Linked DNA regions of Homo sapiens. The protein of the gene in region 1 interacts with the protein of each later gene in a biochemical or structural test. Each region holds a gene or a part of one and is shown in the gene's direction. Other genes may lie near its edges. The genes, in order: HOXB1 and PBX1.

Region 1 (7,146 bases):
TGAGTCTTGCTCTGTCGCCCAGGCTGGAGTGCAATGGTGCGATCTCAGCTCACTGCAACCTCCGCCTCCCGGGTTCAAGCGATTCTCCTGCTTCAGCCTCTTGAGTAGCTGGGATTATAGGTGCCTGCCACCACACCCGGCTAATTTTTGTATTTTTTAGTAGAGATGGGGGTTTCACCATGTTGGTCAGGCTGGTCTTGAACTCCCGACCTCAGGTGATCTGCCCTCCTTGGCCTCCCAAAGTGCTGGGATTACAGGCATGAGCCACCTCACTGGCCTAGCCCCAACCTTTGATCTTGGGTTTGGCCTCCCTAGATTTGGGCTGGGGAGAGCAGATAGAGACATTTAAGGTCTAATGAGAGAATTTAGATTGCTCCTGCCAAGCCCCCAGCTGAAGCAGCTTCCTTCACAGAAAGGACCAGAATCTGAGGTTAAACTTCTAATATATCCCCATTCTGGTTAGATAGTTTCCTTGCCTGCATTCTCAGTGTGATAAGGAGTGAAAACTGTCAAAGATAACTTCAGTTCCAAACATGTCTATGTTCTCCTTGCTCTCTTTTATGTACAAGCAGATCATACAAACTAGGACATCAACTTTATTTCATTTTGGTGTTGGGTCCACCCAGACCCTCTCTGGTGAGTTTAATTTGGTCCACCAAAAATCCTATGGGCCATAGGTTATTCCAGTCAGCGAAGCTTCTTTTAGGGAGGAGGAGGAGATTGGGAACCTAGGGAGCAAAGTTGCTTGGTTCTCCCAGTCTTTTCTGCTGGGGCTGGGAGAGCCAGCAGGAATTTGGGCAAGTTTTAATGTCCCTGCTAACACAAGAGAAGGTGGCATGACTCAGGGATGAATTGGGGAGCATAGTGAATTTGGAAAGCTGAGGCAATCACTGCAATTGACAGTATAACTTGAGGCACTTTTTTTTTTTTTTTAAATAGAGACAGGTTCTCTGTCACCCAGGCTAGAGTGCAGTGGTGTGGTCATAGCTCATTGCAGCCTTGAACTCCTGGGCTCAAGCCATCCTCCCTTCTGAGCAGCTGGGACTTCAGGGAGGCACCACCACACCCAGCTAATTTTTGTATTTATTTATTTTTGTAGAGATGTGGTCTCACCATCTTGCCCAGGCTGGTCTCGAAGTCCTGGGCTCAAGTGATCCTCTTGCCTTGGCCTTCCAAAGTGCTGGGACTGCACCCAGCCAACTTAGGGCACTTTTGCCTCAGTCTTTGCTTGCTGTCATGAATAATAGATTGTTGGTGACTTCAGCTGTTATAAAGGGAATGCATTCCTCAATTCCCAGATTTGTGCTGTTTTATTAAACTGATTTGAAATTCACTTCTTCCTTTAGACCTCAAATTGTTCCCTTAATTATGAAGGCAAAGGATGGGGTGAGAAGATTCTCCCCGGGATGAGGAAAAGGTGGAAGGTGAACAAGTCTCAAGTCTCTCAGAAGCAGGGCTGCCAGATCAGATACAGGCCTTGTTCAAATTTGGGGTTAGAAGACAAGCCCTAGATTCCTCCAGACAAGTTATTCTTAGCGTCTGTGGAAGACATCTTAAAATGAAAGGATGAAGCATCTGCAAATCTTCTCCCCGAAAAAGTAAAATAGAAAGAAATAAGCTTGCTCTTACCTCAATAATTTCTTTCTCTTCAATTCCTCTGCAGGTCACCTCCTCCCATCTCAATTTTCCTTTCTCTTGTCTGCCCTCATTCCCTTGGCAAGTGAACATTCTCTCTCACCCCCATTGCATCTATTAAAGAAGTTACCAGCTTGTGCCCCTCCCCCTCAGCTTGAAGCAGGGTCTGAAGCAGAGTACACATGATCGGGAAAAGGAGGCAGGGGTTCTGTGAAATGCTTTGAGCTCTTTCAGAGTTGGGGGTGATGGCCAGGTGTGGCAGCTCAGGCCTGCAATCCTAGCACTTTGGGAGGCCGAAGCAGGCAGATCGTTGAGGCCAGGGGTTCGAGACCAGCCTGGCCAACATGGTGAAACCCTGTCTCTACTAAAAATACAAAAAAAATTAGCCAGGCCCAGTGGTGCCTGACTGTGGTCCCAGCTACTCAGGAGGCTGAGGTGAGAGGATTGCTTGAACCTGGGAGGCAGAGGTTGCAGTGAGCTGAGATCATGCCACCGCACTCCAATCTGGATGACAGAGTAAGACCCTATCTCAAAAAACAAAAACAAAACAAAACCCTCCCCCTCAAAAAAACAGAGTTGGGCTAGGCCCACAATTATTAGAGAAGAGAAAGGCAGTGTGATGCTGGTGGTATAGAGCAGAAAGCAGGAGAGGCAGCTACGGTAAGGCCAAGCAAAACAAGAGGGAATGGGAGACAAAGATGGAGGGGCAAGACACAGACTGCAGGGGACAACTTTGGGGTCCCTTGCAGAGGAAGGAGTATTCGCCCTGCCCTTTTTGGGGTGTGGAAACCTGAGAAGTTTTGAGGGTCCTCCTTAAACCTGTCCCACCTGCTTCCCTTTCCTCTCCTGAGCTCCGTTGTTTACAGAGATCACTCCCTGAACTCTTGCCCTCCTGGACTTGCCCTAGCTTCGGCCCCAGGCCTCCGGCCAGGCAGACACCCTGACAGGTTACAAATGAGCGTGGGTGTTGGATTGCCCCAAGCTCTTGCCCTCAAGTTGTCCGGAGGAGGAGAGTCAATGGGCTCTACCTAAGGGCTTCTCTTCTAGTCCCATCTGGGTTTGGAGTCTGAGAGAGTGAAGAAGACACATCCTGTGTCCCTCCGCAACAGCCACACAGAACAAAAAGGGGCGAGACTCCACTCCTCACTCTGGAGTCTTAGAATTCAGAGCCTCAGGGCCTCCACCCCGATTCTCCCACTCTCTGACCAAACTCCCTTTATCAATCCTAGAAAAATTACTGAAATCTGGAGGAATCTTTAAGATTTAACTGGTATTAAATTTATGCATTTGAGGTTTGGAAATTTTTTTTTTTTGGAAGGAGATGGAGGGTGGTGAAGGAGAGACAGGTAGGAGGGAACCAGGAGAATGCAGGTCTCCACTAGTTTTAAACACTTCAAGAAGAGAATAAAAAATTCCCCTCCTCTTCACCCCGCTGTAAACATCACCTGGCTGTGCTCATTGTGGCTCTCTAGAGAGATATAGGGAGTTATTTAAGTCTGAGTGAGTGAGCCAGCTACAGCTATGGATGGCTAGAGAGAGGATAAATACATCTAGAGAGATGAGAGGTAGGGAACGAATATAAATATGGAGAAAGATGGACGAACAGAGAGATGGATTGAGACAGAGAGAATATAAAGAGAGGCTGAGGGAGAGAAATGGATGTGTGAATGAGGAGAGAACATTTATGCAAAGAGAGAGAGAGGGAAGATGGGGCATTTCTCATCCTTTTCTCCACATTTCTGTAGTCCTGCCTTGCTCCCTGAAATGCCAATTTCCCACCCCTGGCTTCATGAATTCTTCCTCTAGATTCTAGATCCTGCCCCACACCCTTAGGTGTTTTTGCACCACCTTCCCCCACCTCCCCACCACACAGTCATCCATTTGGCCCAAGATAACATACCTCACCCGGCTGTCCTAGCCCACCACCCTAAGACAAATTGGAAGAAAGGAACATGGTTTGGGAGTTCTGGGCAAAGTATGGAAGCTGGATTCCCCACCTCCAGGTCCACAGACTTAGGGGGAAGGTTTCTCTGAGGGGTGGGAAGAGTGAGGGGCAGCTGGCTTGAATTTGTCCAAATCTAATAACCCAGGAGCCTATTGAAGGCCTTGGGGGTTGGGAGGGAAGGAAAGTCTTGAATATTCTCCTAACTTTTTCCCCCTCTCCCTCTGGTCCCTTCTTTCCAAAAGTCTTTGAAGAAAGATGTTTTTGACGCTTCCATGTCGCTCTCAGATGGATGGGCTGCGGGTGATTGAAGTGTCTTTGTCATGCTAATGCTTGGGGGGTGATGGATGGGCGCTGGGGCTGCCAAACTCTGGCCCGCTTAGCCCATTGGCCTGGGAGAGATCACATGTGCCCCCTCACCCCCACTCCCTACCCCCTTCCTAGGGAAGCGCTTGCCCAGGCGAGCGGGTCAGGCCATGGATTCGAGCCCCAGCGCTGTGACATACTGCCGAAAGGTTGTAGGGCAAGAGGGTGTCTCCCCCAAACGGGCCGACCCTCCTGCGGCCTTGACGCATGGACTATAATAGGATGAACTCCTTCTTAGAGTACCCACTCTGTAACCGGGGACCCAGCGCCTACAGCGCCCACAGCGCCCCAACCTCCTTTCCCCCAAGCTCGGCTCAGGCGGTTGACAGCTATGCAAGCGAGGGCCGCTACGGTGGGGGGCTGTCCAGCCCTGCGTTTCAGCAGAACTCCGGCTATCCCGCCCAGCAGCCGCCTTCGACCCTGGGGGTGCCCTTCCCCAGCTCCGCGCCCTCGGGGTATGCTCCTGCCGCCTGCAGCCCCAGCTACGGGCCTTCTCAGTACTACCCTCTGGGTCAATCAGAAGGAGACGGAGGCTATTTTCATCCCTCGAGCTACGGGGCCCAGCTAGGGGGCTTGTCCGATGGCTACGGAGCAGGTGGAGCCGGTCCGGGGCCATATCCTCCGCAGCATCCCCCTTATGGGAACGAGCAGACCGCGAGCTTTGCACCGGCCTATGCTGATCTCCTCTCCGAGGACAAGGAAACACCCTGCCCTTCAGAACCTAACACCCCCACGGCCCGGACCTTCGACTGGATGAAGGTTAAGAGAAACCCACCCAAGACAGGTAGGGCTCAGATGTGGCCACCCCTTCTCCGGGGCCCAAAGCATCTCTGCTTCCCCTGCAGTGACATGTCCTGGGTCTGGGCTGGGTTCTTCTCTTTCAGCGGCTCTGGTAGACACAGGTAAGAGCACAACCTACGTCTCAGGTCAGGTGAGGTCTCCCCACCCAGTATGTAACCGGTCACCCCAGGAGTAAGTTTCCATACACACCCCACTTCCTGATCTGTGCACCCAGCACAGACCCAGGACCTGGTGTGCATGGGGGATGGAAGTATGGGGAAGGCTGCTCCAGACTTGGTGATCACCATGGGGGTACCTGGTGGTCCCTGGGAACTTTGACAACTGTACTTGGGCAGAATGGCAAATGGAGGTCCAGAGCCAGCCCCGGGAGGAGGGAAGCGGAAGGAGAAAGAGGTGAGAGAATTGACCTGGCCTTTCTCCCTGCCCCGCCCCTAGCGAAGGTGTCAGAGCCAGGCCTGGGCTCGCCCAGTGGCCTCCGCACCAACTTCACCACAAGGCAGCTGACAGAACTGGAAAAGGAGTTCCATTTCAACAAGTACCTGAGCCGGGCCCGGAGGGTGGAGATTGCCGCCACCCTGGAGCTCAATGAAACACAGGTCAAGATTTGGTTCCAGAACCGACGAATGAAGCAGAAGAAGCGCGAGCGAGAGGAAGGTCGGGTCCCCCCAGCCCCACCAGGCTGCCCCAAGGAGGCAGCTGGAGATGCCTCAGACCAGTCGACATGCACCTCCCCGGAAGCCTCACCCAGCTCTGTCACCTCCTGAACTGAACCTAGCCACCAATGGGGCTTCCAGGCACTGGAGCGCCCCAGTCCAGCCCTATCCCAGGCTCTCCCCAACCCCAGGCCTGGGCTTCACTGGCCTGGGGATCCTCTCTAGGGCTGAAATGCCAGTTTAGAGCTGCCTGGGGGTGGGAGGGGGGATGGGGAAACATTTTTCTCAGACCTGGGTGGCTGGGGGCCCTACAGGACCAGAGGCCTGGGAGGCATGGAACCTGTCAAATGTAGAGGGAAGGGCTTCTGCCTTTGATCTGGGGATCAGCTCAGTGTCAACATGTGGTGGGGGTGGGGGCCAGCCTCATCCTCCTGGATTCATCCTCCTTTCCCTTCCAACTTGGGTTTATTCGGTTCAGTGCCTTCGAGCTTTGAGGAGTCTCCTCACGCACTCTTATCCTAACTCCCCCTTCTAGGCCTGACACAGAACCTTAAATTTTCTTGTGTGGGAGGTGTTTGGGTGCAGCCATATTATTATCAATGCTTAATCCAGTCACCACAGACCTTACAATAGCACCAGCTGCCTTGTGACAGACCAAAAAGCCCCCCGCCCCCATCTAACCCCATTAGCCCTCTCCTGGCATATTTATATTGCACTAATGCAGCCTTCAGAGGTTGTTTTCTGAGACCTGCCTCCTCACACCAGCGACCTCATCACTATGTCACCAAAGTGTTTTGGAACTTGGTATTCCAGAGACTTCTGGAACGCCGTGCAAGGCCTGCCCCCAGCAAGCCACAACCAGGAAGGTGCAGGCACGCCCCCACTAGCTCCTCCCCTATTTATTGCCTCCTGGAAAACCCAGGACCCTCTTCCCCATCTCCACCCCTACCCCTGGGGGCAGCCCAGGGAGAGCCAGGCACAATGAGGGCTCCCAACAGCTGCAAGGATTTATCTGAACCTTTGAGAAAGAGGAGGAGCCATCTAAGTTTCTGGAAACCTGAGCCCCAAGTGAGCCCGGGTTCTCTCTGTACCTGCAACTACCTCATTTCAATAAAGTCTGTGTTTTCCCTTCTTCCTGCCTGCTTCTGTTTCTCCATTCAGGGGTAGAAGAGGCCTCATACTCCGTGCACCGTGGAGAAGAGGTGAAGAAAGAGTGGCCATTGGCTGGTTGGGCTGGAATGAACTGAGCTTTAAGATCTCAGCTGGATAAAGAGAAGGACTTACTGGGTGTGGCCTAAGCAGGATTGGGTCCCAGGCATTCAGGCTTGACAGTTGTCAGTCCCTTGGTTATTGGGAGAATCCAGAAAAGCATGGAAGAAGTCTGTGGAATGAATGCAATTCCCAGAGATTTTTCTTTTTCTTTTCTTTTTTTCTTTCTTTCTTGCTTTCTTTCTTTCTTTTTCTTTTTCTTTTTTTTTTTTTTTTTTTTTTTTTGAGACAGGGTCTGGCTCTGTCGCTCAGGCTGGAGTGCAGTTTTTTGGTTTGTGTTTTGTTTTTTGGTTTTGTGTTTTGGTTTTTGTTTGTTTGTTTGTTTGAGACAGGGTCTCGCTCTGTTGCTCAGGCTGGAGTACAGTGGCATAATCTCCGTTCACTGCAACCTCTGCCTCTCAGGTTCAAGCGATTCTCCACCTCAGTCTCCAGAGTAGCTGGGACCACAGGCGCACACCACCACTCCCGGCTGATTTTTGT
Region 2 (3,442 bases), on another chromosome or scaffold:
GTTCTCTTGGAAACAAGAAGAGTGACTCCAGATGTGGCCTGAATAATTGCCATGTTAAGTTAATGCAAAAGATCAGAACAGGGCTACATTTGCACAGGCAGTTTCTCTCCGGGCCGTAGTTTTCACTGATGATCACCTTTCACAGCATTTTCCCCAACCAGCATTTCACTTAGTCTTCTCTATACCCAGCACCTCCCCCGGCACCCCCGGCAAGCCCACTATCACTTCCGACTTCCAACGTGGCATCCGTGAGATCTGTCCACATTAGGCGAAGCAGGAGAACACTGAGAGCAGCAGGATGGGTTTGGAAAGAGCATGCCTCTGGAAACACAGCTTCCTGGGAATTCACATGAGGCCAGTCCTACAGAGAGCAAGATGCACCCCAGGATTTCTTCATTTTCTAATAGATGTGGGAGTGCTCCATTTTCCCCGACAGCGAATTTCCCCTGAGAAACGATACTAGACCCTGGGTTTGCCCACCTTGTAACTCTTCCTTATCTCCTCCTTTTCATCCCTAATCCATCCTCCCTCTGGCATGGAATTGACGCCCGTGCAGTACATTTGCCAAGTGGCACCTTCTTTCAATTTATGTTTTATTTTGCTATGGTGGTGATTCTTTATTTGCTGGTTGTCTTTTCTCACACATCTTTCTCTCTGTCTCTCTCTTTCCTGCTCTTTGTTTTTCTGCCCAGAAAAACCTGACTTCGATACCAAAAAAGATGAAACTACAGAAACTCAAATTTAAAAAAAACTTTAAAAGAAACAAAAAAATACTCAACGATTCTTTCAGCTTTATTAACATTTTCCATTGTTTCTTGCGACTTGTGTCTCGTTCTTTGTAGTATTGATGATGAACATTTGATAATGAATGTTCTTGTATATTCAGATAAAGAAAAAAAAAACCAAAAAAGCGGTCTGAATTTAATAGTGTTTATAATAAAAATTTTAAAAATGACCCTCATAGCACGCAAAACAGGATGGGGAATTTCCCCTCTTCTTTCTGTGACAATGCGCATCATTCCTGCATTAGTTTTTAACACCAGACTACCTACATTCATCATTTCCCTCATTTTTCTTTTATTTTCTTGCATTTGTGAATTAGTTCAAGAATGCTAGAAAAGTGTCGAGTTGTGCACATCCATTTCTTGTTTCACAATGTTTAAAAGTGACAGTAATTCATTTTGTAAACTAAAAAAAAAAAAAAAAAGGTTGGAATAGTGAGCATAATAGGTACAACCTAACACATTATTATGTTTATTAACTTTGAGACCCAGAAATAAATTCTTTTCTTTTCTTGATTCTTGCTCTTAAAAATACAAAAAAAAAAATGTTTTGTTTTGTGTTATTTTTGGTTTGTTTATTGGGGGGCTTTTTTTAATTGTCAGGATTATGATCTTGCTGTTTTTCTTCAATATGTATACAAGGTGATGTGAAAAGATGACTTGGGCAGAGGAGTAAGAACAAGTAGGCTTGTTCTTCTACTTTGCTTCAGAATTCAGTTAATGCCAAAAGCGAAGATCAAGCCCATGTTGATGTCTCGTTGCTCACCTGCATTTCCAGAGAGTGTGACACTCATGCAGTCCCTGAGAAAAATAAAATCAGGGACATACTTCTCCTTTTAGCCTTTTAAAAATTCAAAAACGTTTAGTCCAAGGGAACTTTTTATGCTATCAGGAAAGGTTTTTGCTGTTTTTGATTCTGATTATCACAGCCAAGTACTTTGTTTTATTTCTCCCTAATTAATAACTACATTCCATGAGGCCTCTTCCAACCAAAGAGGCCTTTTCTTCCAGGAGAGTCCCGCAGGAGATGCTGGTATGATGGGCACCATTGGTTAAGTAAACTACATGCAGGAAGAAGTCCTTGGGGCCAGTCTGCCAGCTGAGTCCTGGTTTTGGATGAAGAGTTAATGAGATATTGGGCCAGGCTCAATGCTGTAGTTTTAATGCTAAGAGGTTACGTTTACTTCACAGAGTACACCTCTTAGTAACCTCTGACTTAGGCAGCTGCTTAAAGCAAATTGCAAAACTGGCTTGATTTGGAATGTTTTTATTAGAGGAAAAAAGAAAGCCATATTATCTGGAAAAAAATTCATTTTAAATACCATCATTCAACAAATTATGTTCAGAAAGTGGTCAGAACTTAAGCAAGAAAAGTAAAGAAAGAATGCAGAATTGTGGAGCAATGCTTTAGGAAATATTTCTACCTGAACACTTGTACTCTTGAAGTCACAACAAAATAATGATGAGCTTTTCACATCACCTTTATGGTTTCAATCCCTAGCTCAAAGCTTCCTGGAATCTTTTATTTTTTGTAAACTTTTTTTTCTTTTGTTAAAATAAATAAAACATTCAATGTTTTTCTCCTTTTCTCTCTTATTACTTCTTTCCTTTGGCATTTTCAATTTGAAATGCTTTCCTTTGGTTGTTGGTTTTATTCTCCCCCTACCCCTCCCCTTTTCTTATTATTCAGAATATAAACCTGCAAAGCTCTGCTCTGTTTTGGTTTTGAAAGTTTAAGCTTTTCTGCTTCTGTGAGAGCACAGGCTTCTGTCCCTTTTGATTCCAACTGAACTTTTGTGTTCTCTAATGATACTAACACGGTGTAGGTTTTACAGTCTCCTAATTTGTACTGGTAATGCATATTCCAAATAAATAGTTTCTTTTGTTGCAAAAAAAAATACTTGTATTTTGTGCACATTTCTTTTCTTACATGCTGGCAACTTCTCTTTCCCCAAACTAGGCCTGCATTAGTGTAGATTATGGTTTAAACTGTTGCCCTAATCACTGAAAAGTCTACATACTATGGTGGTGGGGCAGAGACCTTATGGACCACCTTCTTCACTCAGGAAATAAGAAGGAAGGAAGGAAGGATCATTTGTGGGTAAACAATAGCTGTATTACAGAGGGACAGAGCACCCCATCTTGTCTGCTTGCTACTGGCAGCCATCCACCAAGCACCAGTTCAGAGAAATGCCAGGAGTATTTTCCATAATAAATTCTAAGTTCCTAAGTCATGGCTGTTTGCCCAGTGATTCTCCTTTTCTTCTCTTTGTCTGCTGTGATCTGGTCATAAGAAAAATTGTGGTTCCCAAGAGATATTTCAGGGGAAGGAATCTAGGTTACAAATAATACCCAGTTGTAGGCTCTCAGGAGTGTGATAGATGTTACTCCCAACAGATGTGCATCTCTACCATCTGTTATGCCTACCATCCCAAAGGAGCATCTCTTCCAATAGTCTGCACTCATATTGAACCCCTGACCTTTGAGGTTTCGAAGTGTTACAGAGTGTGGTATCCCCAGTGTTCTAGCTGGAACACCAGGCCTCCACACCTAAGTCTGTGCCCAAGTCTTTAACACCATCTTCCCATCCATAGAGTGGGATGGAACTCCTTGTCTGCCTTTTGACATGTTACTCTAGGGCCATCACATGCATTACATTC

The links.
Region 2: the proteins of HOXB1 (region 1) and PBX1 are reported together in a solved structure, tested with the Homo sapiens proteins (2 studies listed by BioGRID and IntAct, with this or other methods).

What each region holds. Positions count from the first base shown.
Region 1 is NC_000017.11:48,527,909-48,535,054, reverse strand, and holds HOXB1 (homeobox protein Hox-B1), read left to right. Parts: upstream 1-4,043; 5' UTR 4,044-4,150; coding exon 4,151-4,727; intron 4,728-5,179; coding exon 5,180-5,508; 3' UTR 5,509-6,529; downstream 6,530-7,146. UniProt on the Homo sapiens protein: Sequence-specific transcription factor which is part of a developmental regulatory system that provides cells with specific positional identities on the anterior-posterior axis. Acts on the anterior body structures.
Region 2 is NC_000001.11:164,849,151-164,852,592, forward strand, and holds the end of PBX1 (pre-B-cell leukemia transcription factor 1), read left to right. Parts: 3' UTR 1-189; coding exon of another isoform or gene 190-252; 3' UTR 253-2,681; downstream 2,682-3,442. UniProt on the Homo sapiens protein: Transcription factor which binds the DNA sequence 5'-TGATTGAT-3' as part of a heterodimer with HOX proteins such as HOXA1, HOXA5, HOXB7 and HOXB8. Binds to the DNA sequence 5'-TGATTGAC-3' in complex with a nuclear factor which is not a class I HOX protein.